7 separate regions of the Homo sapiens genome follow, and regions 1, 2, 3, 4, 5 and 7 are each linked to region 6. Evidence: fine-mapped expression QTL. A gene starts in region 6. Each other region holds a variant in brackets. All regions are shown on one strand. Distances are between the middles of the regions.

Region 1 (4,069 bases), 44 kb before region 6:
CCAGTACTTTGGAAGGCCGAGGTGGGTGGATCACCTGAGATCAGGAGTTTGAGACCAGCTTGGCCAACACAGTGAAACCCCGTCTCTATGAAAAATACAAAAAATTAGCTGGGTGTCGTGGCACGTGCCTGTAATCCCAGCTACTCAGGAGGCTGAAACAGGAGAATTGCTTGAACCTGGGAGGAGAAGGTTGCAGTGAGCCAAGATCGTGCCACTGCATGACAGCCTGGGCAACAAGAGCAAAACCCTGTCTCAAAAATAATAATAATAATAATAAGTATGCACATATATGTCAAATTTACACTATGTTCTGGATGGTATTGCCTAGGTTTTCTTCTAGGGTTTTTATGGTTTGGGGTGTTACATTTAAGTCTTTAATCCATCTCGAGTTAATCTTTGTATAAGGTGTAAGGAAGGGGTCCAGTTTCTGTTTTCTCCATATGGCTAGCCAGTTTTTCCAGCACCATTTATTAAATAGGGAATACTTTCCCCATTTCTTGTTTTTGTCAGGTTTGTCAAAGATCGGGTGGTTGTAGATGTGTGGTGTTATTTCTGAGGGCTCTGTTCTGTTCCATTGGTCTACATATCTGTTTTGGCACCAGTACCATGCTGTTTTGGTTACTGTAGCCTTGTAGTATAGTTTGAAGTCAGACACAGGGAGGGGAACATCACACACCAGGGTCTGTCCGGGGGTGGAAGGCAAGGGGAGGGAAAGCATTAGAACAAATACCTAATGCCTGTGGGGCTTAAAATCTAGATGATGGTTTGATAGGTGCAGAAAACCACCATGGCACATGTATACCTATGTAACAAACCTGCACATTCTGCACGTGTATCCCAGAACTTAAAGTAAAATTTTTAAAAAAATTATATAAATTAATTTAAATTTATATTTTATATAAATTCATTTACATATAAATGAATAACATATACACCATACCTATTCATATTTTTTCTAATAGCAGAAAGTCAGGAAAATTAAAACGTTCATCAAGAGGAAATAGATTAAATATTGGTACATCAATATAATGAAGCACCACATAATAGTTTAAAAAATAATATAATTTACATGTAATGACATATAAATATGTAAGAAGCAAATTCCAAAACAGAATGTGTAATTAGTTTACAGAAAAACAAAATCTGGAAACCTAATCACTAGACTGTGAATTTAGAAAGCAGTGAGGTAAAAAGGAGAAAAAATCCTCTCTGTTATGAAAAGAGGAAAGAGAAAGACAGAAGTAGACAGAAAGGGCTGACTTTATTTTATTTATTTATTTATTTTATGAGAAACTCTCGGCAGGCTTAAGTGTTTCTAGAAGGAAACTTTCTAAGGGAATGGTTGGAGTGAAGTGAGAGGGAGAGTCATCTAACAAGCTAGAGGAGAAATGCAGAAACAAAGGATTATTCTTAGTAGGAGAAGGGGTAATTCTGCCAGCATAATATGAGAATAAAAAGACAAAAATACAAATATGATTTAGTTAATAAGAATTGTGTTTATTCTTTATTTAATAGTATTGAGGGTCATTTATAATATCTTAGATTATTTGAAATTTTTATGTTGTTTTAAACTTTTTGTTGTATTAAGCCAGCATTTCTCAAAGTATCACCCAGAGACGCTGTGACCTTTCAGGGAATCTGCTAGGTCAAACCTATTTCCATAATAATTCTGAGATGTTATTGCATTTATTACTCCCATACTCTCACAGGTGAACAGTGGAGTTTTCCAGAGGCTACATGACATGTGATTTTGCAACAGATTGAATGCAGATATGAAAACCCAGTTCTCTTCTATTTACTTACTTTTTTAAACATTCAAAGAGATATGCAAAAATGTAAAATAACATGGTTCTTCTCATCAACTGTTTTTCACTTTGGATGTTTTAAATGAATTAATATATTCTTGACTTCTCAGTTTTAATTTCTAGTGGCAAATAAGGATTGATATAACCCCCAAAAGCAAAATCTCTTTTGGTTTCTCAATAGTTTTTAAGCAATGCCTCAGTGACCATCATCATGGCTTAATCTTTACACACACCTATGATTATTTCCTTAGAATAAATTCTTGGATATTGAATTCGTGTAATCCCCTGATGGGTTCTTCCTGCCAGTTGCACAGACAAAACCATTTCACTGAGACTGCAGTATTGCAGTAGAGAAAGAGTTTAATTAACGTGGAGCTAGCCAAATGGAAGGGCTGGAGTTATTACTCATATCAGTCTCACGAAGAACTCAGAGGCTAGGGTTTTTATGGATAATTTGGTGGGCAGGGGGATAGGGAATGGGTGCTGCTGATTGGGTGAGAATGAAATCATAGGGGTGTGGAAAATGGTGCTTGTGTGCTGTATCTGCCTCTGAGTGAGAGC[A/G]GTAGAACCGGTTGAGTCATGAGTCATGGGTTTGGGTGGGATCAGTCAGTTGCCAGAATGCAAAAATCTGAAAAACATCTCAAAAGACCAACCTCAGGTTCTACAGCAGTGACACTATCTTTAGGAGCAAGTGGGGAAGTCACAAATCTTGTGACCTCTGGCCACATGACTCCACTCCTGAGCAGTAAGGGAACATAGAAACTATGCCTACATTTTAGCAGAATTCAGATCCCTCCCACAATCCTATGTCATAAACGTTCATTAGTTTTACAAAGGCAGCTTTGGTCTCTGAGCAAGGCAGGGATCAGTTTTAGGGAAGGACTATTATGATCCTTGTTTCAAAATTAAACTATATACTAAGATTTTCCCATGATTAGCTTGGTCTATGCCCAGGAATGAGTGAAGACAGCCAGCCTGTGAGACTAGAAGCAAGAGGGCATGAGTCATGCTAGCGTTCTCTCACTGTCATAATATTTGCAAAGGTGTTTTCATTGATGGGTCAAAAAGTGCAAAGGTTTGAGGAGACAGGGCAACCAAATGTAATGTGGTATTATAGAGGCCAGGGGAAAACTTCCCCTTTGCCCTCTGAAGGTTTGCTGAAATCAATTGATGAAAGGCAGAAAAGGCATACAAATGTATTAATGTGGTGGAATCACAAAGGGATTCCCCCAATCTTCCAATGGGTACAGCTTATATACCCTTTTTCATAGGGGAGGGAAGCGCTGGGGGATATAGACAATTCTTTGAGGGGCAGTAAATGACTATTAGGGAGAATGGACGGACCAGGGAACAGTAATTAACTTGTAAAGGATTTTCTCTGGAATTTTCTCTGAGCTCCAGTGGCAGGAATTATCTTCTTAAAAACAAGTCTGTCCAGGTGTGGTTGCATTCTTGTCTTTTTTCTGCAATAGATAATGCCATTTTAGGAAGCAGATAGAAGGCAATTTTTTTTTTTTTGTAAGAGACTTTTTTGAACAGATGAGGAAACTCCAGAGAGAGTCCCTTCCTGTCCTGGGAGGTGAAGTGGGCTGGGGAAACAACACAAGGTTAGACAGGACCTTGTTTCTGGGGCCTTTCAATTTTCAAAAGCACTCAGCATGCCCAAGCCCCACAGGCTGGGGAATCATTTTCCACACCTCATCAGCATCCTGGATGGGATCTTGGAGCAGAAAAAAGACATTAGGCGAGTCTCGCTCTGTTGCCCAGGCTGGAGTGCAATGGTGTGATCTCAGCTCACTACAATCTCTGCCTCCTGAGTTCAAACAATTCTCTTGCCTCAGCCACCCAAGTAGCTGGGATTGCCTGATTAACTTTTTTTTTTTTTTTTGTATTTTTAGTAGAGATGGGGTTTACCATGTTGGCCAGGCTGGTCTCAAACTCCTGGTCTCAAGTGATTAGCCTACCACAGCCTCCCAAAGTGTTGGGACTACAGGCGTGAGCCACCATGCCTGACTCAGAATCTAGTTTAAACAGAGTTGATTCAAGTGCAAAGTTTGAAGCCGGGCTTCTTGGGAAGCACAGATTCTAAAGAATGGAAGTCAGTGTTCCAAAGTATAGAAGTTTTCACTCATATTCACAAAGTTTAGGGAAGTTTAGCAGAATATCAACACCTTCCTATGTTAGGCTTAATGTATAGTTACAATGATCTGATTTGTTGAGGTGGTATTTTTCTTTCAGGAAAGGCACGTCAAGCTGAAACAGTC
Region 2 (4,069 bases), 34 kb after region 6:
CCAATGTACTGGTGATGAAGTGGGGGCCTGGGGTGTGGGGATGAGACCAGCTGGCAGACATTGGCTAAGCCAGACCCTGGGCTGAGTTGGATTGCATAGGCCTTGTGACTCTATTATTAAACACAGATCCTGAGGGTGAATGACAGCATCTGTGAGATTTTTGAGTCAGTTCTGAAGTAGGTTCTCAGCCAAGTTAGGCAGACATAGAAAAGTAATTATAAAATGCCTAGGCACCAGCCCCACCTAGAGTTGATGCTTAGAATGAGGTAGATAGTAGCAGAAGGAGCAGTTTTTTAAGCCAGTGAGCTTTACAGTGGGGGAAGGGGCAGAATGGGGAAGTCCTTTATTCTGAGCTCTTAAGCATGCCAGGAGCAGATGCCTGATTTTACTGTGTGGCACTTTGTGGCCCAGAAACTTTCCAGATTCTGTATTTTCCTATCTGGTTAAATGTAACTGTATTTACCTGTGTTTCAAAGCCTGAATGCTTTATTTATTCTCTACTTAATTTTCTTTTCCAGTTTTTCCTAACAAGCTTCCCTAGATTTACTTGTTCTCACTTCCTAGACGCTATTTGTATTCTTCCTTCTTCTCTAGTTCATTGGAAATTTCTGCTTCTTTGAGACTGAGGTTATATTCCACTTCTTCTGACTACACCACCACCATCAATCTCCTTCTCTGAACTCTTGGATCATTACTTCAACCTGAAACAACTCATCAGGTATCTATAAAGGTGGTTATTTGAGTTCCTGTTTTTAGGATTCCAAAATGATGCCAAGATATGTAAAATGAAATGTTAATTGCATTTTTTTTGAGGGGGTTAGAACTATGTAAGTCCCAAAAGAGACAAAGAGTTTAGCTCAAAGCTATCAGATGTTGGAATCAGAAGTTTGGCTTAGGTTAATAAAATGTTTTGCTGTTTAATTTACAAAATTTTTCAAGATCAGGTCCCTGGAGGGAAAATAGCAAAAGGAATTCCTGATAGAGAAAAGTTGCAAACCACTAATTGTGTATAGATTTGGTATTTTGTTATGTGTAGTAAAGTGGTTGAGAGTATGATCTTTGAAGTCAGGCAGACCTGGGTTTGCCACTTTCTATCTGTATAACTCTGTACTTTGCATTATCTTTGGGAGTCTTGGTTTCTCACCTAGAAAGTGAGTCAAGGCAAATAATTTACTCAGCACAATGCCTGCCATATAGTAAATGTTCAGTGTTATCATTATTGTTGTTGCATCTTATTTGCTCTTTTTTGTGGTTTATGTCCTGTGTTAGGCAGAATAGTTGCCTACTGCCCCAACCCCACCAAATGTTCCAGCACCTCTGATATTACCTCACATGGCAAGAGGGCTTTGAAGATGTGATTGAGTCAAGGATCTTGAATGGGGAGATTATCCTGAATTATTCAGCTGGACCCAGTGTAATCACAAAGGTTTTTCAAAGATGGAAGAGAGGCAGAAGAGCCAGAAAAGGATATGTGACAATGGAGTCAGTGTCAGAGTTGGAGTGACGTGATGTGAGAAGGATTCAACCTGCTGTTTCTGGCTTTGAGGATGAAAGAAGG[G/C]GCCATGAGCCAAGCAATACAGGTGGCTTCTTTCAAGAAGTTGGAAAAGGTAAGGAAATGGGTTCTCACCTAGAACTGCTGGAAAGCAACCCAGCCCTACTGACACCATGATTTTAGCTCAGTGAGACTCTGTCCAGATTTCTGACCTCTAGAACTATAAGATAATAAATTTGCATTGTTTTAAGCCACTAAGTTTGTGGTAATTTGATAAAGCATCAACAAAAAATGAACACTTCTTCCCAGCAGGACTCCTTTTGAAGACCAGTTCTGTATACATCATCGTATCCAGTGTAAGTACTGGATGTAAATATGGATCAATAATTTGGAATTTACTGAGGTTTCCAGTGGTGAGGCACAATAACTTGTAATTTGCAATTTTTTGTAGTGGAGAAGAGATAACCATGAGTCAGCTCTCTTTCTGCATACACATTTCCATTGCAGCACAAGTTAAAGATACTGGAGAAATTCCCCATCTCACTACCAAGGACAGACCTAACTGACAATAAATTCATCTATAGCCCAGTCAGGGTTTTCCCCTCATTGTCCCTGCCTTCCACAATTGCAGCTAGTTTTCAAAAAGATACATAAAAATAGCTACCATGAATTTAGCACATGGTATGTGCCAGGAGTTATGCTAAATGCTCTGCGTATGTTATCTTACTTAATCCTCCAAAATTTTCCATGGTGGTAAAAATAAATGTTTCTTGTTTTCAAACTTCAGGTCATGACTCTCAGTGGATTTTGAAATCAATTTTGTAGGGAGTGATCAGTAGTTATTAAACAATAAAATAGAATATGAAATATCATTGCATTTCAGGAAGTAAGAGTAGGCATAGCTTCATCAAATTTTGGTTTCAATTATATATATATCTTATCATGTCTATAAAATAAACACATATGTGTATGTACTGGGTTGTGTTACAGAACATATTTCTTACAATGAGTCCTAGTAAAAATTACTTTTTTTTTTTTTTGAGACGGAGTTTTGCTCTTGTTGCCCAGGCTGGAGTGCATTGTGCGATCTCGGCTCACTGCAGCCTCCACCTCCCAGGTTCAAGCGATTCTCCTGCCTCAGCCTCCTGAGTAGCTGGAATTACAGACATGTGCCACCACGCCTAGATAATTTTTTTTTTTTTTTTTTTTGTAGAGACGGGATTTCTCCATGTTGGTCAGGCTGGTCTCGAACTCCTGACCTCAGGTGATCTGCCCACCCCAGCCTCCCAAAGTGCTGGGATTACATGTGTGAGCCACCACACCCAGCCCTTAAAAAATTACTTCTTGGAGTGGGTTGTATTTAAATTTTTTAAAAACCACCAATGAAGTGGTTAAGAATATAGGCTTTAGCAACAGGGCTACCTGAGTTTATTCTCAGTTCTTTATTTTACCAGCTCTGTGATCTTGAGTATATTACTTACTGTTTTTACCTCAGTTACCTCATTTATAGGATCCTATCTCATAGGGACTTTTGAGGAGTAAATGAATTCATTCAAGTTAAGCACTTTGAACAGTGCCTTAGTAATTAACAATTAGCTAATGTTACTTTCCCAATGTTATGTGGGTTAGTAAGTGGTAAAACCTACCAGATTCCCATTCTGTCTGACAAAGTCTAGTCTCTTAGCTACTGTGTGTCGCTGCCTGAGTGTGAAATCTAAAGCAATTTTACAGTAATTTATGTGGCCCCTCAAAACAAACAAATCAACAAAATTAAAAAGTCTCCCTTTATAATAAATGGTACCAGTACATGAAAATACTGGGGATGCCTTTTTCTCAGGGACTTGGCTGATTTGGCATAACCTTATCTCTGAGGGAAAACAAGTTTTGTGACTTGTTCCACTCTGAATTTCAAGAGAGGAATATGTGGAAGGTACTGAGTGCTTTTGACATATAGAGAACAAAGCGATGACTCACTTAAACCCTGATAGTAGGGGCACCATATAAATTATTATATCTAAAGGGAGTCAGGTCAAAGAAGAAATCTTGCAAGAATCTGGAGGGAGATCTGTTGTCTAAAAGCTTATTAGGTGACTAGGGTATCGGTTTTGCTAGTGTTTGTTTTTATCTTGTTTTTTCCCTTCCTCAGTTCCAGCAGGCATTTTAGTGATCTCTTGAAACACGTTTTGACTCTACTTGGTGATTGAAATACACAGCCAGGCTGTGTTGCTTTTATAAGCTCTGAAAGTTTAAGAATTTAGGAAGCTAATGACTGTCTTAAATTACAGTTAAATCTAATTGATAAAATCCTGGGACATTGAACGATTGATTTTAGTATTCAGCTAATAACCCATTTAAAATGAATTCCATACTTCTTTCAACTTGCTTGACTGAAGAGTAATTTTGTCGCTAGTTACTGTATTACTGGAAAATGTATTCCTAGGCTTTAAGATTTGGGAAGCGTGTGAGTCTAACTTCTCAAACAGAATTTGACAAGGACGTAGCAGTGTTTTAAAAAGTCAGGGAAAGGAAAGAGGTGTGTTCAGCATTCCTGCCCCATCTTAACATATTCTTTTTCTC
Region 3 (4,069 bases), 160 kb after region 6:
ATCCACTTGATGCAGAGCTCAGTTCAATTCCTGGGTATCCATGTTAACTTTGTGTCTCATTGATCTGTCTAATGTTGACAGTGGGGTGTTAAAGTCTCCCATTATTATTGTGTGGGAGTCTAAGTCTCTTTGTAGGTCACTCAGGACTTGCTTTATGAAACTGGGTCCTCCTGTATTGGGTGCATATATATTTAGGATAGTTAGCTCTTCTTGTTGAATTGAATAAATACTTAAACGTTAGACCTAAAACCATAAAAACTCTAGAGGAAAACCTAGGCATTACCATTCAGGACATAGGCATGGGCAAGGACTTCATGTCTAAAACACCAAAAGCAATGGCAACAAAAGACAAAATTGACAAATGGGATCTAATTAAACTAAAGAGCTTCTGCACAGCAAAAGAAACTACCATCAGAGTGAACAGGCAACCTACAAAATGGGAGAAAATTTCGCAACGTACTCATCTGACAAAGGACTAATATCCAGAATCTACAATGAACTCAAACAAATTTACAAGAAAAAAACAAACAACCCCATCAAAAAGTGGGCATAGGACATGAACAGACACTTCTCAAAAGAAGACATTTATGCAGCCAAAAAGCACATGAAAAAATGCCCACCATCATTGGCCATCTGAAAAATGCAAATCAAAACCACAATGAGATACCATCTCACACCAGTTAGAATGGCAATCATTCAAATGTCAGGAAACAACAGGTGCTGGAGAGGATGTGGAGAAATAGGAACACTTTTACACTGTTGGTGGGACTGTAAACTATTTCAACCCTTGTGGAAGTCAGTATGGCGATTCTTCAGGGATCTAGAACTGGAAATACCATTTGACCCATCCATCCCATTACTGGGTATATACCCAAAGGACTATAAATCATGCTGCTATAAAGACACATGCCATGTATGTTTATTGCGGCACTATTCACAATAGCAAAGACTTGGAACCAACCCAAATGTCCAACAATGATAGACTGGATTAAGAAAATGTGGCACATATACACCCTGGAATACTATGCAGCCATAAAAATGATGAATTCATGTCCTTTGTAGGGACATGGATGAAATTGGAAATCATTATTCTTAGTAAACTATCGCAAGAACACAAAACCAAACACCGTATATGCTGCCTCATAGGTGGGAATTGAACGATGAGATCACATGGACACAGGAAGGGGAACATCACACTCTGGGGACTGTTGTGAGGTGGGCGGAGAGGGGAGGGATAGCATTAGGAGATATACCTAATGCTAAATGACGAGTTAATGGGTGCAGCACAGTAGCATGGCACATGTATACATACGTAACTAACCTGCACATTGTGCACATGTACCCTAAAACTTAAAGTATAATAATAAAAAAAAAGAATGTTATGATAGCCTTAATTTGACTTCATGGGTGCTGTGTTACCTATTGGTCACAGTTTGTCATTTACTAAGTAAAAAGAGAGAGATTCCGATAATGGAAAGAGTAGAAGACTGAGTTTAAGTTTTCAGCACTACTGTTCACTAATTGTGTGAATTTGTTGTTCCTTCTCCCCATAATCTCATTACCCCAGATCTTGACATCTATGGTTCTTCATTGTTCAGGACACAGCTGAAGTATTACCTTTCCCAAGAGATCTTACATGACAATAACCACCCCTGTCCTATGTAAGTACTACATACTTCAGTTGCTTTCACACATCACCCTGTTTTACTGTGTTTATTGCAGTTGTCATTGTGTGAAATGGTCTTGTTTCACCATTATTGTATTTTGCCAAGTAGAGCACTATCCAACAGCAAGATGACAGTGTTGAAGTTTACTTAATGTTTCCACAATTCATTGCATCATTTTAACTACATGGATATCTTAAGTCCTCCAGGTCTACTTCCTGTCCTTAACAGTGAACTGTATTATGACATCATGCAGAGCCCATGGTGCCAGCAGTAGCCCTGCTGGTAATGCTTGCTTATGATTGCCGAATTGGGGGTCAGCCTGTCCTGTGTTTGTGTTTTATTTATTATCTTCTGCGTGTAGCTAGGGGATCAATGTGTGATCTTACTCCATTGTA[A/G]AAGAATATAAACTGATGCTGTGTAGTACAAAACTTCTCATTCAGGATATTGTTTTTCTGGTATCAAGCTGAAATGTAAATGCTTTGTTTTATGGAGATTAATTTAAAAAGTATTTGTCAGAAGTATTCAACAGTGACCTTTAGAGTTGAAAGGAACTCAAGTATTTCAGAGGGATAAAGTTGAGTATGTTATTTTCTCCTTCCACAATTCAGAAACTGGGTAAAATAACACAAAATTTACTTGTCCGCCAAGTCCTGATTTTCACATGTTAGGGTTAACTTATCTCAAGGTCTTTTTTGAATGACATGCTTGCAGATGTTTTTCACATTTTTTTCTTCATTCCTTTGCAAGCTCAGCAGCTGTACACTTGCAAGCTAAGCCTTGTTCCCTGAATATGCCAAAGGGCTGCAGAGGTAGAATCAGCTCTAGCTAATCTAACCTCCAGTAGGAATCATTTTGGGGAACTTGACACCTAATGTTGCTCTGGTGGTGTTTAGTTCATGTCCATGACATCCCTGTGACTCCCATTTTCCTATCACACTCTCTGGACACAATAGGCCACATTTCCTATCTCCCCTTTTCTTCAGTTTCCTTCTCATGACTCCTTTGAGGACTGGGCATGGTCTCAAATGGAAGTTTGGCAAAACCAGATATGAACCTTGTAAAATGGATGGGTGGTCTCTGGAGTGATCAGTTTACAGTTTCAAGCTGCTCTGAATTGAGAGCCAAAGCAAATCTTATGACACAGAGAAGAAAAAATTACTTCATATTTTCCATCTCAGTTCTAGTTCATTTCATAATCATCAGCAAAAACAATCTACCTCACAAAGATAAAAGTCTGCATTTCCCTCAAATATTATCTTTATCAAAGAAATTAGAAAAAAATCTGAGGCCTGCGTCATAGGAGAAGTGACTGAGGAACTAAAATGATGACTAGAGTTAATATTGCTAACAAATAAAAACACTGTTAAAACTTTAGACTTCAAATAGATAATATTGTTTGCAATAAATGACATATGAAGTCACAATAAATACTTATGTTTGTTGCCTAGTGCACTTCACTTTTCAATGCTGAACAAAAATGCTACTTGTTATATGAAGGTTTCCACCATCCTCAGGCAGAATTAATTACTCCCCCATCTGTGTTTGTAGCACTACTTCAGGCCTCTATTACTGCATTTATCATTGTAATATCTTTATTTTGTTGGTTTGTTCATTAATGCACTTACTCAATAGAGCAGAGTGGTTAAGAGTATGAACTCTGGAGCTAGACTGCCTGGATTTTAGTCTTAGTCCTGATTCATTCCTTCTTTCTTTCCTCCCACCTTCCTTCCTTCCTTCCTTCTTCCTTCCTTCCTTCCTTCCTTCCTTCCTTCCTCCCTCCCTTCATCTCTTCCTCCCTCATTCCTTCCTCTTTTCCTCCCTCTCTTCCTTCCCCTCTTCCTCCCTCCCTACCTTCCTTCTTTCCTTCCCCCTTAAAATAAATTATATATATATAGCACACAACATAATCTAGTTGGATACATATAGATAGTAAAATAGTTACTATAGTGAAGCAAATTAGCATCTCCATCATCTCACATAGTTACCCATTTTTTTTGTGTGTGTGGCAAGAGTAGTTGAGATCTACTCATTTTGCAAAAATTCCTGAATACAATATTATTAATAATCATCCTATTGAACATTAGATCTCGATATTATTCATTCTACATGTCTGCTACTTTGTATCCTTTGATCTACATCTTTCAATTTCTGCCTCTTTCCAATACTGGCAACCTGGTAATACTGTTTTATTATCTGTTTCTGTATACTTGACCTAAAAATTTTTTTTTTAATTCCACATGTAAGTGAGATCATATAATGTTTTTCTTTTATTCCTGGCTTATTTCACTTAGCATAATGTCCTGTAGTTTCATTGATGTTGTGGCAAGTGGCAAGATCTCCTTCTTTTTAAAGGGCAAATTATATTCCATTATACACATCCACCCACACACACACACACACAT
Region 4 (4,069 bases), 29 kb after region 6:
TTCCCAAAGTGCTGGGATTACAGGCATAAGCCACTGCGCCTGACCTTATGTAACCTATCTTTACTCTTTTTCATTATTTTTTCTTTTTGTTCCTGAGAGTGAATGATTTCTGGTGATCTGTCTTCAAGTTCATTGATCTTTCCTTCTGCTTGATTAGTCTGCTACTCAACCCCTCTGCTGAATTTTTTAGTTAGGGTTCAGTTATAGTATTCTTCAGTCTATAACTTTTGTTCGGTACTTTTTATTACTTTCTATCTTTTTTTATCAATGCTCTCATTTTGTTTTTGTGTTGCTCTCCTGACTTCATTGAGGATCTGTAATACCATTAGTTTGAATTCCCTGTCAGATAAACTACATATCTCCAATTCATTCAGATTGGTTTATGTAGATTTACCTTGTTCCTTTATTTGGGAACAAGATAAATCTTGATCTTAATTTCCCTTGACTCTCTGTTATGATTTCTTTCTTTTTTTTGTTTTTGAGACAGTGGCTCTCTCTATCACCCAGGCTGGAGTGCAGTGGCGCTATGTCAGCTCACTGCAACTTCCGTCCCCCAGGCTCAAGCAGTTCTCTCACCTCAGCCTCCTGAGTAGCTGGGATTACAGGCATGTGCCACCATACCCAGCTGATTTTCATATTTTTAGTAGTAATGGGGTCTCACCATTTTGGCCAGGCTGGTCTTGAACTCCTGACCTCAAGTGATCCACCTGCCTTGGCCTCCCGAATTTCTGGGATTATAGGCATGAGCCACTGTGCCTGGCCCTCTGTTATGATTTCTAATTAAAAAGAAATACATGTATCAAATAGGCATGGTAAGACATCCAAACATTATAAAAAGGCATGTGGATGAAAAATGGACCTTCCTGATACTGCAGATCTCTAGTCCGTCTCTCCTAATGAAACAAACAAACAAAAAACAACAGATATTTTATGTACCATTGGGCTAGGTGATGGAAATACAAGAATAACAAAATGCATGTGGTCTCTGCCCTGAAATGTTTTTAGTGTTCTAAAGAAGATAGACACCACAATATGCAGTTACAGCGTCATTAATTTTAGAATAGGGAAGTCCAGGTTCTGATAGGGAATTCCAGGTTACACTCATAATAATAGGCGAGAGAAGTATGTATGTTAATTTAATGAAAGTGAGGTCTGTAGAGGTTAGGTAAATTGCCAGAAGTCACAGTTTTGTAAATTATGGAGATAGGATTTCTGAACACATCTGTTTGAATCAAAGTTCATATTATTTCTGGGAACTACTTGATTTATCAGTAGAGTGCTTCAGTTTCGGTTTTACTTTCTGTAATGTCTGAGGAGAGAAACTTAGTGACAAGAGGGAATTTCCCAGCTACAAAAAGACATAATTGGAAAAATATTTATTATTAATAGACACTACTTAGGAAATTCCATTTTCCTTTTATATTTTACTTGGCAGGTTTCCAAGAATGTGGAAGAACATGTAACTAGTATTTCGCTTGCATTTAAACATTTTCGCCTTTGAATTCAGCGGGATATTTTGCTTTTTAATTTTTTTTCAGAATTCAAAATTGTATTTTTCACCTGTCACTCCTGGGTCATAAACAAAATATACTAAGGTATATTAACTTTTTAGCTGGGCGCGGTGGCTCACGCCTGTAATCCCAGCACTTTGGGAGGCTGAGGCGGGCAGATCACAAGGTCAGGAGATCGAGACCATCCTGGCTAACACGGTGAGACCCCGTCTCTACTAAAAATACAAAAAAATCAGCCGGGCGTGGTGGCGGGCGCCTGTAGTCCCAGTTGCTCCGGAGGCTGAGGCAGGAGAATGGCGTGAACCCGGGAGGCGGAGCTTGCAGTGAGCCGAGATCGCGCCACTGCACTCCAGCGCGCCACAGCACTCCAGCCTGGGCGACAGAGCGAGACTCCGTCTCAAAAAAAAAAAAAAAAAA[AG/G]GCAACACACACACACACACACACACACACACACACACTTCTTAAGAAGTGACTGTGAAAGGAGGTTATAAGTTCAGTAACCTTTTTAACATCCTGTTTTGGGCAGATACAGTTGTAGAAGAAGGCGGAGCTGTTCTTATTGTAGTAGCCTGTGTAATCTAGGTCATCACAGGGCGGGCTGGTGCAATTCTCTGGAAGGGGGAACTATGACTGCATCAGGGATCCAACGTCAGCAGCTGAACATGACAAAACTGTGGAGTTTATTGGGACATAAAGAGCACTCAGGAACCTTCTTTGGCTCAATTTTAATAGTTGTCAAACAGAATAGAAATGTCTGCCCTTCCAGGGCAGCCATTTTTGTACAACTCCAGTGGGGATGTTGTTCACAGTGGGGAGGTATCATTCACATGGAATACATGATCATTGGGGCCCCTGAAGTTGTGCAATGTGGAGGTACTATGGTCTATTTATCTTCCAAGATTGTTCTGAGAGGCTCAAGTTACACAATGAATATATAAGGACTTTATAAGCCTGTCAATATTCGTAAATAATGACAATAATAAGTGTTGTTTTCTGGCCAATTCTGCCCTTTGAGCAAAGCTTTCTTATCTAGTTTGCACTACTGGCTAAGACTTGGCTTAGCACTCACAGTGAAGCTGTGGAGTTCTCTTTCTGAATATATACATTTTCACAGAACACAAACTTCACACATGATCTCTTTGTGACTATAATGGAGCAAGATGGAAATTAGACTACTTCATGATCATTTCAGAACAGAGAAAAATAAGAACACTGTCCAATCCATGAAAATGAGTGAACATTCCCCTTTCCTGGCTAATAATGAATAACTGCTGATTCTTTCCAATTATAGCATTAGCTTACTTCATTCCTTTCAATGTTTAGATAAGAATAATTAAGATACCTAATCAGGGAATTCCCCCTGTTTCTGTACAACATCCAGTCCAGGGAAGATCCCCATTTTCTTGAAAGCTCCCCCGAATCACCTACCACAAACTCAAATCCTGTAAGTTTTTTCTAACACCTTCTTACTGATATGCTCAAGGGTCTCCCATGGTATTTGTTTCTCCCCCTTGCAATGAATTAATAAACCCAGTTTTATAGAACTGCAGATGTGTTGCTGGTGGTCTTTGACTAGAGGACATTGACAAATTCATACAGTAGTTATTACTCAGCCAGGAGCCCTCTCTCTATCTCAGTCAGAGAGGTGGCTCCTCTGACTTCTCTAAGGATTTTGTCTATGGCATTGGTGCTGTTTCAGAGCCCATAGCTGGACATGTAAACATCAGAACCAAATAACATAAATTTCCAGTTTTATTTATTTTAATATGTTTTAGAGACGGTGTCTCACTCTGTCACTCAGGTTGGAGTGCAGTGGCTCAGACATGGCCCACTGCAGCCTGGACCGCTCAAGGCTCAGGTAATCCTCCCACCGCAGCACCCCAAATAGCTGGGACTACAGGCATGCACCACCACATCTGGCCAATTTTTGTATTTTTTATAGAGACAAGTTTTCACCATATCACCCAGGCTGGTCTTAAACTCCTGAGCTCAGGCAATCCGCCCACCTCGGCCTCCTAAATTGCTGGGTTTTACAGGTATGAGCCACCTTGCCAGGTTTGCAGTTTTCTTTAGATTTGCTTTGTGATAAGGTGGTAAACTTGTTAGAATAAAGGGATTATGTAAATTTCTATTTAGTGAGTAATCAAATGGTACACACATCTAAATTAAATGTCTAAGATAGCTTAGTTATTAAGCAGCTTACATGGAAGACAGCAGAGTATACATATGTATATCTACACAAATATTTAACAGAAACACTGTAAAGAGATTCAGTAATATTCATGCTAAAATGAGAAGAAGACTAGGGAGGTAGTGAATGAAGAATCAAATCAGTAGTATTTTGTAGGGAATAAATTATCGAGGAAAATTTATGGAAAGAGAAGATCTGAAGGTGCAGTTTAAACGAGATGACTATTTTTGCTACCACAGACAACAAAAAGTTTTTCCAGAGTCTGGATGGTACATTTTTAATGTATGGTCATGGTTAATCATGTGTGCATCCTCTTATACTCTGGGGCAATAAAATGTTTTAATAGGTGAGTACCATAATATGAATTAG
Region 5 (4,069 bases), 48 kb after region 6:
CTCCTCCTTGTACCTCTGGTAGAATTCGGCTGTGAATCCATCTGGTCCTGGACTTTTTTTGTTGGTAAACTATTCATTATTGCCTCAATTTCAGAGCCTGTTGTTGGTCTATTCAGGGATTCAACTTCTTCCTGGTTTAGTCTTGGGAGGGTGTATGTGTCGAGGAATTTATCCATTTCTTCTAGGTTTTCTAGTTTATTTGTGTAGAGGTAGTTATAGTATTCTCTGATGGTAGTTTGTATTTCTGAGGGATCGGTGATGATATCCCCTTTATCTATCATTTTTTATTGCATATATTTAATTCTTCTCTCTTTTCTTCTTTATTGGTCTTTCCAGCGGTCTATGAATTTTGTTGATCTCTTAAAAAAACCAGCTCCTGGATTCATTGATCTTTTGAAGGGTTTTTTGTGTCTCTATTTCCTTCAGTTTTGCTCTGATCTTAGTTATTTCTTGCCTTCTGCTAGCTTTTGAATGTGTTTGCTCTTGCTTCTCTAGTTCTTTTAATTGTGATGTTAGGGTGTCAATTTTGGATCTTTCCTGCTTTCTCTTGTGGGCATTTAGTGCTATAAATTTCCCTCTACACACTGCTTTGAATGTCTCCCAGAGATTCTTGTATCTTGTATCTTTGTTCTCGTTGGTTTCAAAGAACATCTGTATTTCTGCCTTCATTTCGTTATGTACCCAGTAGTCATTTAGGAGCAGGCTGTTCAGTTCCCATGTAGTTGAGCAGTTGTGAGTGAGATTCTTAATCCTGAGTTCTAGTTTGATTGCACTGTGGTCTGAGGGACAGTTTGTTATAATTTCTGTTCTTTTACATTTGCTGAGGAGTGCTTTACTTCCAAGTGTGTGGTCAATTTTGGAATAAGTGTGGTGTGGTGCTGAGAAGAATGTATATTCTGTTGATTTGGGATGGAGAGTTCTGTAGATGTCTATTAGGTCCGCTTGGTGCAGAGCTGAGTTCAATTCCTGGATATCCTTGTTAACTTTCTGTCTCGTTGATCTGTCTAATGTTGACAGTGGGGTGTTGAAGTCTCCCATTATTATTGTGTGGGAGTCTTAGTCTCTTTCTAGGTCTCTAAGGACTTGCTGTATGAATCTGGGTGCTCCTGTATTGGGTGCATATATATTTAGGATAGTTAGCTCCTCTTGTTGAATTGATCCCTTTACCATTATGTAATGGCCTTCTTTGTCTCTTCTGATCTTTGTTGGCTTAAAGTCTGTTTTTTCAGAGACTAGGATTGCAACCCCTGCCTTTTTTTGTTTTCCATTTGCTTGGTAGATCTTCCTCCATCCTTTTCTTTTGAGCCTATGTGTGTGTCTGCATGTGAGATGGGTTTCCTGAATGCAGCACACTGATGGGCCTTGACTCTTTATCCAATTTGCCAATGTGTGTGTTTTAAGTGGAGCATTTAGCCCATTTACATGAAAGGTTAGTATTGTTATGTGTGAATTTGATCCTGTCATTATGATGTTAGCTGGTTATTTTGCTCGTTAGTTGATGCAGTTTCTTCCTAGCCTCGATGGTCTTTACAATTTGGCATGTTTTTGCAGTGGCTGTTACCGGTTTTTCCTTTCCATGTTTAGTGCTTCCTTCAGGAGCTCTTTTAGGGCAGGCCTGGTGGTGACAAAATCTCTCAGCATTTGCTTGTCTGTAAAGTATTTTATTTCTCCTTCAGTTATCAAGCTTAGTTTGGCTGGATATGAAATTCTGGGTTGAAAATTCTTTTCTTTAAGAATGTTGAATATTGGCCCCCACTCTCTTCTGGCTTGTAGAGTTTCTGCCGAGAGATCTGCTGTTAGTCTGATGGGCTTCCCTTTGTGGGTAACCCGACCTTTCTCTCTGGCTGCCCTTAACATTTTTTCCTTCATTTCAACTTTGGTGAATCTGACAATTATGTGTCTTGGAGTTGCTCTTCTCGAGGAGTATCTTTGTGGTGTTCTCTATATTTCCTGAATTTGAATGTTGGCCTGCCTTGCTAGATTGGGGAAGTTCTCCTGGATAATATCCTGCAGAGTGTTTTCCAACTTGGTTCCATTCACCCTGTCACTTTCAGGTACACCAGTCAGATGTAGATTTGGTCTTTTCACATAGTCCCATATTTCTTGGAGGCTTTGTTCATTTCTTTTTATTCTTTTTTCTCTAAACTTCTCTTCTCGCTTCATTTCATT[A/C]ATTCATTTGATCTTCCATCACTGATACCCTTTCTTCCAGTTGATCAAATCAGCTAGTGAGGCTTGTGCATTCATCACGTAGTTCTCGTGCCTTGGTTTTCAGCTCCATCAGGTCCTTTAAGGACTTCTCTGCATTGGTTATTCTAGTTAGCCATTCATCTAATTTTTTTTCAAGGTTTTTGGCTTCTTTGTGATGGTTTCGAACTTCCTCCTTTAGCTCGGAGTAGTTTGATCGTCTGAAGCCTTCTTCTCTCAACTCGTCAAAGTCATTCTCCATCCAGCTTTGTTCCGTTGCTGGTGAGGAGCTGCATTCCTTTGAACGAGGAGAGGCACTCTGATTTTTAGAGTTTCCAGTTTTTCTGCTCGGTTTTTTCCCCATCTTAGTGGTTTTATCTACCTTTGGTCTTTGATAATGGTGACATACAGATGGGGTTTTGGTGTGGATGTCCTTTCTGTTTGTTAGCTTTCCTTCTAACAGTCAGGACCCTCAGGTGCAGGTCTGTTGGAGTTTGCTGGAGGTCCACTCCAGACCCTGTTTGCCTGGGTATCAGCAGCGGAGGCTGCATAACAGCGGGTATTGGTGAACAGCAAATGTTGCTGCCAGATCTTTCCTCTGGAAGTTTTGTCTCAGGGTAGTACCCGGCTGTGTGAGGTGTCAATCTGCCCCTACTGGGGGGTGCCTCCCAGTTAGGGTACTCAGGGGTCAGGGACCCACTTGAGGAGGCAGTCTATCCGTTCTCAGATCTCCAGCTGCATGCTGGGAGAACCATTACTCTCTTCAAAGCTGTCAGACAGGGACATTTAAGTCTGCAGAGGTTTCTGCTGCCTTTTGTTTGGCAATGCCCTGCCCCCAGAGGTGGCATCTACAGAGGCAGGCAGGCCTCCTTGAGCTGCAGTGGGCTCCACCCAGTTCAAGCTTCCTGGCCACTTTGTTTACCTACTCAAGCCTTGGCAATGGTGGGCGCCCCTCCGCCAGCCTCGCTGCCATCTTGCAGTTTGATCTCAGACTGCTGGGCTAGCAATGAGCGAGGCTCCGTGGGCATAGGACCCTCCGAGCCAGGCGTGGGCTATAATCTCCTGGTGTGCCCTTTGCTAAGACTGTTGGAAATGCGCAGTATTAGGGTGGGAGTGACCCGATTTTCCAGGTGCCGTCTGTCACCCCTTTCTTTGACTAGGAAAGGGAATTCCCCGACCCCTTGAACTTCCCGGGTGAGGCAATGCCTCCCCCTACTTCGGCTCACGCTTGGTGTGCTGCACCCACTGTCCTGTACCCACTTTCCGACACTCCCCAGTGAGATGAACCCAGTACCTCAGTTGGAAATGCGGAAATCACCCATCTTCTGCATCACTCATGCTGGGAGCTGTAGACTGGAGCTGTTCCTGTTCAGCCATCTTGGCTCCACCCCCTTTCCACATCTTGACTGCAACTTCATGAGAGACCCTTAGCCAGAACCACCCAGCTAAACCCATCCAGATGCACAGAAACTGTGGGAGATCATAAATGTTTATTGCTGTTTTAAGCTGCTAAGTTTGGGGTATTTTGTTATTCAGCAATAGGTAACTAACACAACAGTCTACCACCAGATGACAAATCATTTCCCACACAGTGAATGAAACCTTCAACAATATACTTCTATTTCACCTCCTGTCCACATATACTACTTTCTTTCTGTGTTTTATTGTGATTCCTAGCTAGTGAAGTTTGGCAAGAAAAAGAAACAAAATACATAGAGAAAAGAAAGTGTTTTTATTTGCAGATAACATGATAATCCACTTTTTAAAAAAACTGAAGAATTACGCTACTGGAACTAATAAGTAAGTTTCACAAGGCTGCAGGATGCAAGGTCAATATTCAGAAATTCATTATATTTCTATATAGTTACAATCGACAATTGGGATT
Region 6 (4,069 bases):
ACATTGCATAAACTTATTTTTTTTCAGGTCATCCCAAAGAACAATGCAAACATTGTTCTCCATAGTCCGAGAAACACATGTATTTATTATTCGTATTTTATAAGTGAGGAAAGAGACACCAGTGAGTCAACTGCATAGCCTCATCTAATGCTCAGACTACATAAATACTGCAATGATAAGATCTTAAGTAACAAATTGGAGAAAAGAATGTGATGCAGTAAATGCCAGAGTGTTTCGCTGGTCTTATGGCTTCCTCGAAGACAGAATTAATTTCCTACCCAATTCAGTGAAGAATTTTAGACTATGAAAATTGTTCATGAGTATGGGAAGGAAACTCCCTCTTCACTTCTTGGTCCCCAAACTGCACAAAGCTTAGATAAATCAAAATCCTGAGAAGCAGCACCCAAAGTGGGAGGATCAATTGGCTTTTCAATACCTAATGGGTCCATCAGTGCTACATTTCCATATAGTGTTTGCATAACTGGTTCTAACATATATCCACCCTCTCTAACCAACCACCACCCTTAAAAGTTGACTACAGACACATATACACACTTGTCCAGCACTTGCTCCACAGAATATAAGGCCTGGAGTAAACAGACACCACACCTTGTATATCACTGAATCTGGATTATGATAGACAAGAAGTGGAAACAAGCTCTAGAAGTGTCCCAAATCTCCTGTGCCATTTAGGCCATCGAAGCCTGACAGTGAGAGACAATGAAGAAAAGCCACAGGCAGGTGAAAATCCAGTAACTTTGGCAGGGCGGAAGCTGAGGAATTTATCTGATGCTGGATACTCACAGCTTCTGGCCAATCAGGCATCGGGGATGACGTATTTTCACATTAGATATAGGAGGAGGAGAAGAGAATGTTGTAATCATGGATGTTAACTCACTAAGAACTGAATGCTGGGCCTAGTTAAATCCCTGTAGGAAGTAAAATACACAAGACTAGTGACCCATTGACTAATACACAGTCACAGGTCTATGGCACGCGGTTGTAATGTTCTTCTGAAAACAGAAACTAATGCTAACCTTCCCTTAAAACCTGTACAAACCAATAAGTGAAAGCCATTTACAATTTCTGGCCATTTAACAGTCTTTTGGTTCAATTTATTGTGGCAAAAATAGCACACATTTCCTCTACTTAATCTTCCCTGTGAGAGAAACTGAGACTGGGAGAAACTGAACTGCTAGTATTGAGTTTGATATAAAACGTTCCTGACAACACATAATAAACCAAAACCAAAATAAAAACAATAAGAAGCAAAACATCCTTGATTCTAAAGCAGTGCGGTCCAATAAACATATAATGTGAACACCACCACATACAATTTAAAATTTTCTCGTGGCCACATAAAGTAAAAAGAAACACATAAAATGAATTTTAATCTTATATTTAACCCAAGATATCAAAAATGTTATTTCAGCATATAATCAATAAACAAATAATAAAATATTATAAGTTCTTTTTTTAATAAATACTAAGCATTCGAACTCTGGTATTTTACACTTAGGTCACACTTCAATTCGGACGGGCACATTTCAAGTGCTCAATAGCCACCTGTGGCTAAGAGCTACCTACTGGACAGTGCAGCCCTACAGCCCAATTTCAAAAATAAGGAAAAAACAAAGCAAACAAAACCCACACCCACTATATATAAACACACATCAATTTCAGTAAACCCAGCGTTTAGAGTTAGGCAGTGATTGCTGATTTTTGGAGTACGGAGCCAGAACGCCTAGGAGTAAGAGGGAAGGAGAGAAAGGGTAATGGAGAGATGTGTGGAGGAATGCAACTGCTGCATCTCCAGAGAAGCCTGTGCTCCCTACGGTGCCAGAGCTTGAAGGGTGGGTGCTCCCTATCTCCCAAGCTTGAAGGGCTCCCTAGAGGTGACGAGGTGAGGCCGGCCCCAAGCGGTCACTGCCATTTGGGCTCTAGAGCCCGCTTGTCAGGGGGCTTGAGGGGATGCAGGAGTTGAGGGCTCTTCCAGGGAACCCCAGTGACTGCCTACCTGTCGAGCAGCGGAGTGTGGATGTGCAGGTGCTTCACGGCCACCTGGACGCGCCAGTCTGCGTGGCGGGCGGACGACACAGTGCCAGAGGCGCCGCGGCTCAGGTAGCGCAGGTCGGCGAGTTTGTGGTAGGGAATGGTGGGCAGGGCGCTGCAGATGGCCTCCCCGTTCATGGTCCCGGGCGCTCAGGCCGGTTCCGGGTGTGCCCCCTGCTGCGGCGGCTCCCAAGGCTCCCACGCCGCGCTCAGGCGCCCAGATACGCCCCTGCACGAGCGAGGCCGGCAAGACCCTTTTTGCCCCGCAACACTAGGTCACGAGGGCGCCCATTCCCCGGATGGCCCACGCCAGCCGCTGCTTCTCCGAACCAGAGCTGACTTCTTTTCTAGAGACTGGTGCCAACGCCGTAGCGCCGCGAAAGAGCTTCCTCTCTCGCAGCCCCGGCCCTCCCCCCGGCGCGCGCAGCGACCAGCTCCGGCCGCCCGAGCTCCTCCCTCCCCAAACTTCGCAGGTTACGTCAGCGGCGGACGGCAAGGCGGGGAGAGGGGCAGCCCGCTCGCGGCCCTCCCGCCTGGCTCTCGCCTCGGCCTGCGGCCGGGATCCTCCGCCCGGGTCGCGCAGCGGAGGCCGAGGGCTGGGACGGGCGGCTGGGAAGTGGGAAAGGGAGCTCCTTTTGTCTTCTCTTCCCATCCCCCAGGTTTGGGAAAGTTTTCCTTTTGGGAAAGCCCCTCTCTTCAGCCTGCTGGCGGGTGTCGGATTGGTTAGCGACCACCGGCCCCCGCCTCCCCCAACAGGATTCTCCTTTGGGCCACAGGTCTTCCGGAAGTTGCCAAACCCCGGTAGCGGCAGCGTCCGGCTGGGGGCTTTATTAGGGGGCACCGGGGTCTGCTTTCCGACTCCCTTCCGACTCCGCGCCTGCGCAGGAAGCGATTTGGGGAGTGTTGTGAATTCCGAGGGCTCCACACTTAAGAGGTTGTACACTCACCTGTCTACCTGGACTCCAATTTCCATATTTCCAGCCACTTGAGGACTGAGAGGTGGATGATAAACCCTGTCATAGTGGAGCAAGTTCAGGTGTTTAACCGCTGTTATGGGGGATCTGCCTTTTCTCCCTCTTCTTTCTTACTTCCATAAGTATGTATGTGCAGAGATTGAAAAATAACCTTGAGAGAGTCCATCCATCTAACTCCAGGTAAGACTGCAAATATTTCTTTCTTATAAATCTGGGAGGAATGCAGTCAGTGTTTCATGCCAACCAAAAAAGACTGCAAACGTTTTTCCATCCTTCTGCCTTGAATACCTTTCTACTTAGATGACTATTTTGTAAGACGTGAGTGCAAATGTTATATACAATACCAACTCCATACTAGATGTTTAATTAATTCTAGGGATTCAGTAATAAGGAATGACTCGAACAGATTTCTGCCTACAGACAGCTAATGCTTCTTGTATTTTTGCATTACCTGAAATGAAAGTAGCAATGTTAGATTTTACAGTAGTGGGAGGTTGTAAACAATAGTATGTTAAACATTTTTGATCATTTATAATAAAATGTTCAGCACTAAACATATGGTCTGATACTCTGTGCTTTATTGCTTAATAAGCTTTTTTTTTTCTTTTCGAGAGGGAGTCGTGCTCTGTCACCCAGGCTGGAGTGTAGTGGCGCGATCTCTGCTCTGCTCATTGCAACCTCTGCCTCCCTGGTTCAAGCAATTCTTCTGCCTCAGCCTCCCAAGTAGCTTGGATTACAGGCGCCCGCCACCACACCCAGCTAATTTTTGTATTTTTAGTAGAGACGGGGTTTCACCGTGTTGGCCAAGCTGGTCTCGAACTCCTGACCTCGTGATCCGCCCACCTTGTCCTCCCAAAGTGCTGGGATTACAGGCGTGAGCCACCGCGCCCGGCCAATAAGCTTTTTTCTTAAAAAGTACTCAGAAGACTTTTCTATCCATTCATTCTGTTAACGCGCGTCAGTGTGAAGAGACCACCAAACAGGCTTTGGGTGAGCAATAAAGCTTTTAATCATGTGGGTGTAGGCCGACTTAGTTCGAAAAA
Region 7 (4,069 bases), 41 kb after region 6:
GCTGTGTTTTTGAGTACTTCCAAGTATGTTTCAAGTAACTTGGTTATGGTTTTGAATGACTAGGAAAATGCTTTGCTTTTTTTGAAAGGGAAATTGTTCAAAAATGAGATTCAATGGAAAACACAGAGGGTGCTAAAAATGCAGAGACATTGTATAAACCTATAAGAAATTTTACATGGAACCAGAATTTTGATGCCCCTTAAAAGGAAACCAATGAGATTCCTTATTCATTAGTACTTTGAAAGTTGGCAGTGGAATGAGGATCTGTGGAGGAAGGGACAGCTGGATCTTGCACTCAGGACTTCTGCCCTCTGCTCCTCAAAGAACTCATTAGTCACTGTTCCCACTCCCACCCTGGCACCAAGGAAAATGTGGATGTTTCCACCTTTCCCACCCAGGCCTATTTAGGGCATACAACCCTTCCTGAATTTCCTGCAGTACAGTTGAGATCACACTGTAGCCTCTAACAAGCATTTACCAGAGATTCAGCGATGACAACAGAGAACTACAATATAATGAGTAACAGATAACCACTCCATAGATGTTGCATGCATTTCCGAGTGTATACAGCCCATTCTCACCTTACAGGAGAACCAGGAAAAGAGAACAATTTGGGAAGGTCTCTTCATTTAATTTTTCCCACACTGCTGCCTCTTCTATCTTTGGCTTGTTTCTTCTTCTCACTTAGGAGGAAGTGGTTCTCAGATAATTGACTAATCACTTCTTCATGGTCGTGAACTCAAGGACTTACCTGTTATGAGGGGAGAAGCATAATAAAGATTACATCATGTGAACTTTTGAAATAAAATGCCCGAAGACATAAGAGAGACCCTTACCACTGTCACACTCAAAAGGAAAGCTTAGTAGCTACAGAGATTTAAAAAGCAAGCAAACAAGCAACCAAGCAAACAACAAAGACCTGAAGAAAATTCCAGAATAATCCTCAACCTGTGCTTTCACATGCTAAATTTTCATAATGAGAAAGATAAACTGTGTATCTTGTGGTGTCAGTGGTCAGTGTGGTGATAGTAGTTGTGGTTTGGGCTGCTTTTTTCCTTGTTTATTTTTTCCAAATTTTATTTGGGAAAATTTCTGCTGTTTCCATTGTGAACTAAAGTTACATATACTGGATGATATAACTTTAACTCCTAAGAGTATGTTTGGCTATGTTTTTGGAATTAGGTATTATGCATGCCACCTTGTGGCCATTATTAAGAAAACACCTAACATGAAGACGAGAAACAGGATCATTAGTGAGAGCAGCTTGAGCTTGGAGCAGTACTTTCCCAAGTCTGTTTCTCCAACAGCATCCTTAGAACCCTTAGAACCTGGATATCACATTTTAGTGGGAGGAGACAGACAATAAATAAAACAAAGTATAGTAAGTGCTCTGGAGAAAAGTAATGCAAAGAAGAGGGCCAGAAAGTATCAAAAAGTTTGAAATTACAAATAAGGTACTCTTGGAAGACCTCACTAAGGTCACATTTGAGCAGAGATCTGAACAGCATGAGAGACAACTGGGGGTGGGGGGGGGCAGAATAATGTTTCAGATATGTACATTGCAACTGCAAAGGCCTGAGACAGGAATTTGCCTGGCCTGTTCCAGCTTAGCAAAGAAAGAGGCCTGTGTTAATGATACTCAGAGAGGAAGGAGGCAATAGTAGAACATGAAGCCAGAAAAGTGACCAGATGCAGGAGTGACTAAGGCTTTGTAGACTGCTGTATAGACTCTGAGGGAAATGAGCAGTCATTGATGGGTTTTTCGCACAGAAGGATCTTGGTGTGTTTTAAAAGGAACATTCTGTATTCTATGTTGAAAACAGACTGAAAAGCACAAGAGAAAGAACAGGAAGAGCAATTAGGAGGCTGTGGTAGATTATTATTCAGCAAATATTCACCCTACTGTCCTCCCCATAAGATTTCCCCAGGCCACCATCACTGGATTTGGCTATTTGACTTGCTGTAGTCAATGGAATGTGAGTGAAAA[G/A]TGACTCTGTACCAGTGGGGAGGCAAAGCCTTAAAAGACCCAGCAAATTTCTTCCAGCCCTTTTGTGCTTCTGCCAAAAGAATACTGTGAGCAATCAGTGCCCTTAAGCCTGGGCCTCAGAACGAGAGATATGGAGCAAACCTGAACCTGAACAGCAGCCTACAATCAAGCCAGGATGACCCTGCAAAGCCCAGCCAACGATAGCAAAGCCACAGCAGACTTGTAGACCAATGAGCATGAAATAAATTGCATTGAAAGCTACTGAGATTGGAGGAATAATTTTTATGCAGGATTACTGCAGTGAACCTGATTGATACAGGAGCTACTGCAATAATCCAGGGAAAGAGGGGATGATGAGCTGAAGTAAACTAGGATGGTTGCGATCGGATTAGAGTCTGTATATACATTTGAGGACAAGATTTGAAAGAATTTGCTGATGGTTTAGCTATTAAGTGTGAAAGAGAAATTTTGAAATTTTGGTCCAAACAATGGGAATGATTGAGTTGCCATTTACTGACACGGGGAACATGAAAGAAGGGGCAGGTTTACTTGATTCAGGGCATGCAGAGGAGAGCAGAGTTAAACTTTATATATGTTAAGTTTCATATGCGTCTTATATTTGGAAGTAGAGGTATCTTCCTATATTTGTAAAAAGAGGTATCCAGCAAGTAATTTGACATTTAAAAAAGATTTCTGGAGATCATTTCTGCTCTGGCTATAATGGGATGACAGAGACTACATTTACTGTGTACCTCAAACAAATAGAAAATTGGACAAAACAATGTTTTCAGGCATAATAAACAAATTGAACCTTATTATTACCTCAGCTTGGCTTGCCACCTAGAGGCAGTTTTCGAGCTTTAATAGATGGAGGGTTTATTAGTCTGTTTTCACGCTGCTATAAAGAATGACCTGAAACTGGGTAATTTAAAAAGGAAAGAGGTTTAATTGACTCACAGTTCCTCATGGCTGGGGAGGCCTCAGGAAACTTACAATCATGGTGGAAGGTGAAGGGGAAGCAAGGCATGTCTTTAAGAGGTGGCAGGAGAGAGAGAGAGACAGAGAGAGAGAGAGAGAGACAGAGAGAGCAAAAGTGCAGGGGAAACTGCCGCTTTTAAACCGTCAGATCTCATGAGAACTCCCTCACTATCACAAGAACAGCATAGGGAAAACTGCCCACATGATCCAGTCACCTCCCACCAAGTCCCTTTCTTGACACATGGGGGATTACAATTTGAGATAAGATTTAGGTGGGGACACAGAGCCAAACCATATCAGAGGGAAACCTCGAACAGATCCTGGCAGTCTACCTTAGTGGAGGGATTAGAAATTAGAGTTCATGGAGACTAAAGTGGATAGAGATTTTGGGTGGGGGGGGGGGGTTGGTGAAGAGAGAGAGAGAGAGATAAGAGAGAATATACCCAGAGATCACAAAGGGGTCCCTTGAGCCTTGGTATGTGCATGTGAGAGAGAAAGATACCCCTGGCAGGGGTAAGAACTGCTGGGAGGCAATAAGCCAAATAATTCCTGAAGCTCACTTAAGGCTGGGAAGAGTTTGTGTTCCCATCAGTTAGAGTGGAAAGACCTTATTACACTGTATTATATAGGGGCATTGAATAGAATCCTCAGAAGAATACCTCAGTAGTGAAGTTAGTAGTGAGGCTAAATTAGCCCTGGACTAAAATATACTCTGGATTTCCCTAACAAGCCTCAAAAGAGGTAGACTGCTACTAAGTAACATAACTGCGTGCTAGAACAAAGCCTAAGACTACTAGAAGGGTTACAACAAAATCTACCACCCTATTAAGTGAGGTTTCAATGTCGCAAAGCAATAAAACATTTACCAGACAGTAGAAAGAATAAGAAACCTAACCCATAATCAGAAGAAAAATGTCAATAAATAGAAACAGCACCAGAAATGACAGAGGTGATGTAATGACTAAAATTGTCTATTGTAAATATGCTTCACATCATGAGTAAGGTATAGGGAAGCATGAGCATGATGAAGAGAGATATAGATAATAGAAGAAGACAAATCAAAGTTATAGAGATGAAAAATACAATAGATTCTTCATTTCATCT

Evidence for each region. PIP is the estimated chance that this variant, and not a neighbour inherited with it, causes the effect.
Region 1: its variant is fine-mapped to the expression of PARAIL in fibroblasts (GTEx, PIP above 0.99).
Region 2: its variant is fine-mapped to the expression of PARAIL in whole blood (TOPMed, PIP above 0.99).
Region 3: its variant is fine-mapped to the expression of PARAIL in left ventricle (GTEx, PIP 0.94).
Region 4: its variant is fine-mapped to the expression of PARAIL in monocytes (Schmiedel 2018, PIP 0.95).
Region 5: its variant is fine-mapped to the expression of PARAIL in cerebellum (GTEx, PIP above 0.99). The same link has a PIP of 0.9 or more in prefrontal cortex.
Region 7: its variant is fine-mapped to the expression of PARAIL in whole blood (TOPMed, PIP above 0.99).

Annotation. Positions count from the first base shown.
Region 1 is chr8:89,800,198-89,804,266 of GRCh38, reverse strand. No RefSeq gene overlaps it. Among named protein-coding and RNA genes, the nearest start is that of RIPK2, 44 kb to the right of the region's middle. The variant A/G (reference allele first, on the strand shown) is at 2,367.
Region 2 is chr8:89,722,167-89,726,235 of GRCh38, reverse strand. It overlaps PARAIL (palmitic acid regulated anti-inflammatory lncRNA), which reads left to right. Exons shown (of 5, transcript NR_125822.1): 2 at 595-718; 3 at 1,270-1,607. Among named protein-coding and RNA genes, the nearest start is that of PARAIL, 34 kb to the left of the region's middle. RefSeq lists enhancers at 128-227, 278-327, 358-407, 1-532. The variant G/C (reference allele first, on the strand shown) is at 1,559.
Region 3 is chr8:89,594,011-89,598,079 of GRCh38, reverse strand. No RefSeq gene overlaps it. Among named protein-coding and RNA genes, the nearest start is that of PARAIL, 160 kb to the left of the region's middle. The variant A/G (reference allele first, on the strand shown) is at 2,063.
Region 4 is chr8:89,727,310-89,731,378 of GRCh38, reverse strand. The region is part of intron 1 of PARAIL (palmitic acid regulated anti-inflammatory lncRNA); the gene reads left to right. Among named protein-coding and RNA genes, the nearest start is that of PARAIL, 28 kb to the left of the region's middle. RefSeq lists an enhancer at 1,627-1,676 and a silencer at 1,877-1,926. The variant AG/G (reference allele first, on the strand shown) is at 1,929.
Region 5 is chr8:89,707,691-89,711,759 of GRCh38, reverse strand. No RefSeq gene overlaps it. Among named protein-coding and RNA genes, the nearest start is that of PARAIL, 48 kb to the left of the region's middle. The variant A/C (reference allele first, on the strand shown) is at 2,170.
Region 6 is chr8:89,756,182-89,760,250 of GRCh38, reverse strand. It overlaps PARAIL (palmitic acid regulated anti-inflammatory lncRNA), which reads left to right and starts at 2,540. Exons shown (of 5, transcript NR_125822.1): 1 at 2,540-3,206. RIPK2 (receptor interacting serine/threonine kinase 2) reads right to left here and starts at 2,435. Exons shown (of 11, transcript NM_003821.6): 1 at 2,018-2,435. The coding sequence starts at 2,190. RefSeq lists enhancers at 592-681, 1,960-2,029 and a silencer at 2,570-2,689.
Region 7 is chr8:89,715,578-89,719,646 of GRCh38, reverse strand. PARAIL (palmitic acid regulated anti-inflammatory lncRNA) reads left to right here. Exons shown (of 5, transcript NR_125822.1): 5 at 1,919-2,248. Among named protein-coding and RNA genes, the nearest start is that of PARAIL, 40 kb to the left of the region's middle. The variant G/A (reference allele first, on the strand shown) is at 1,988.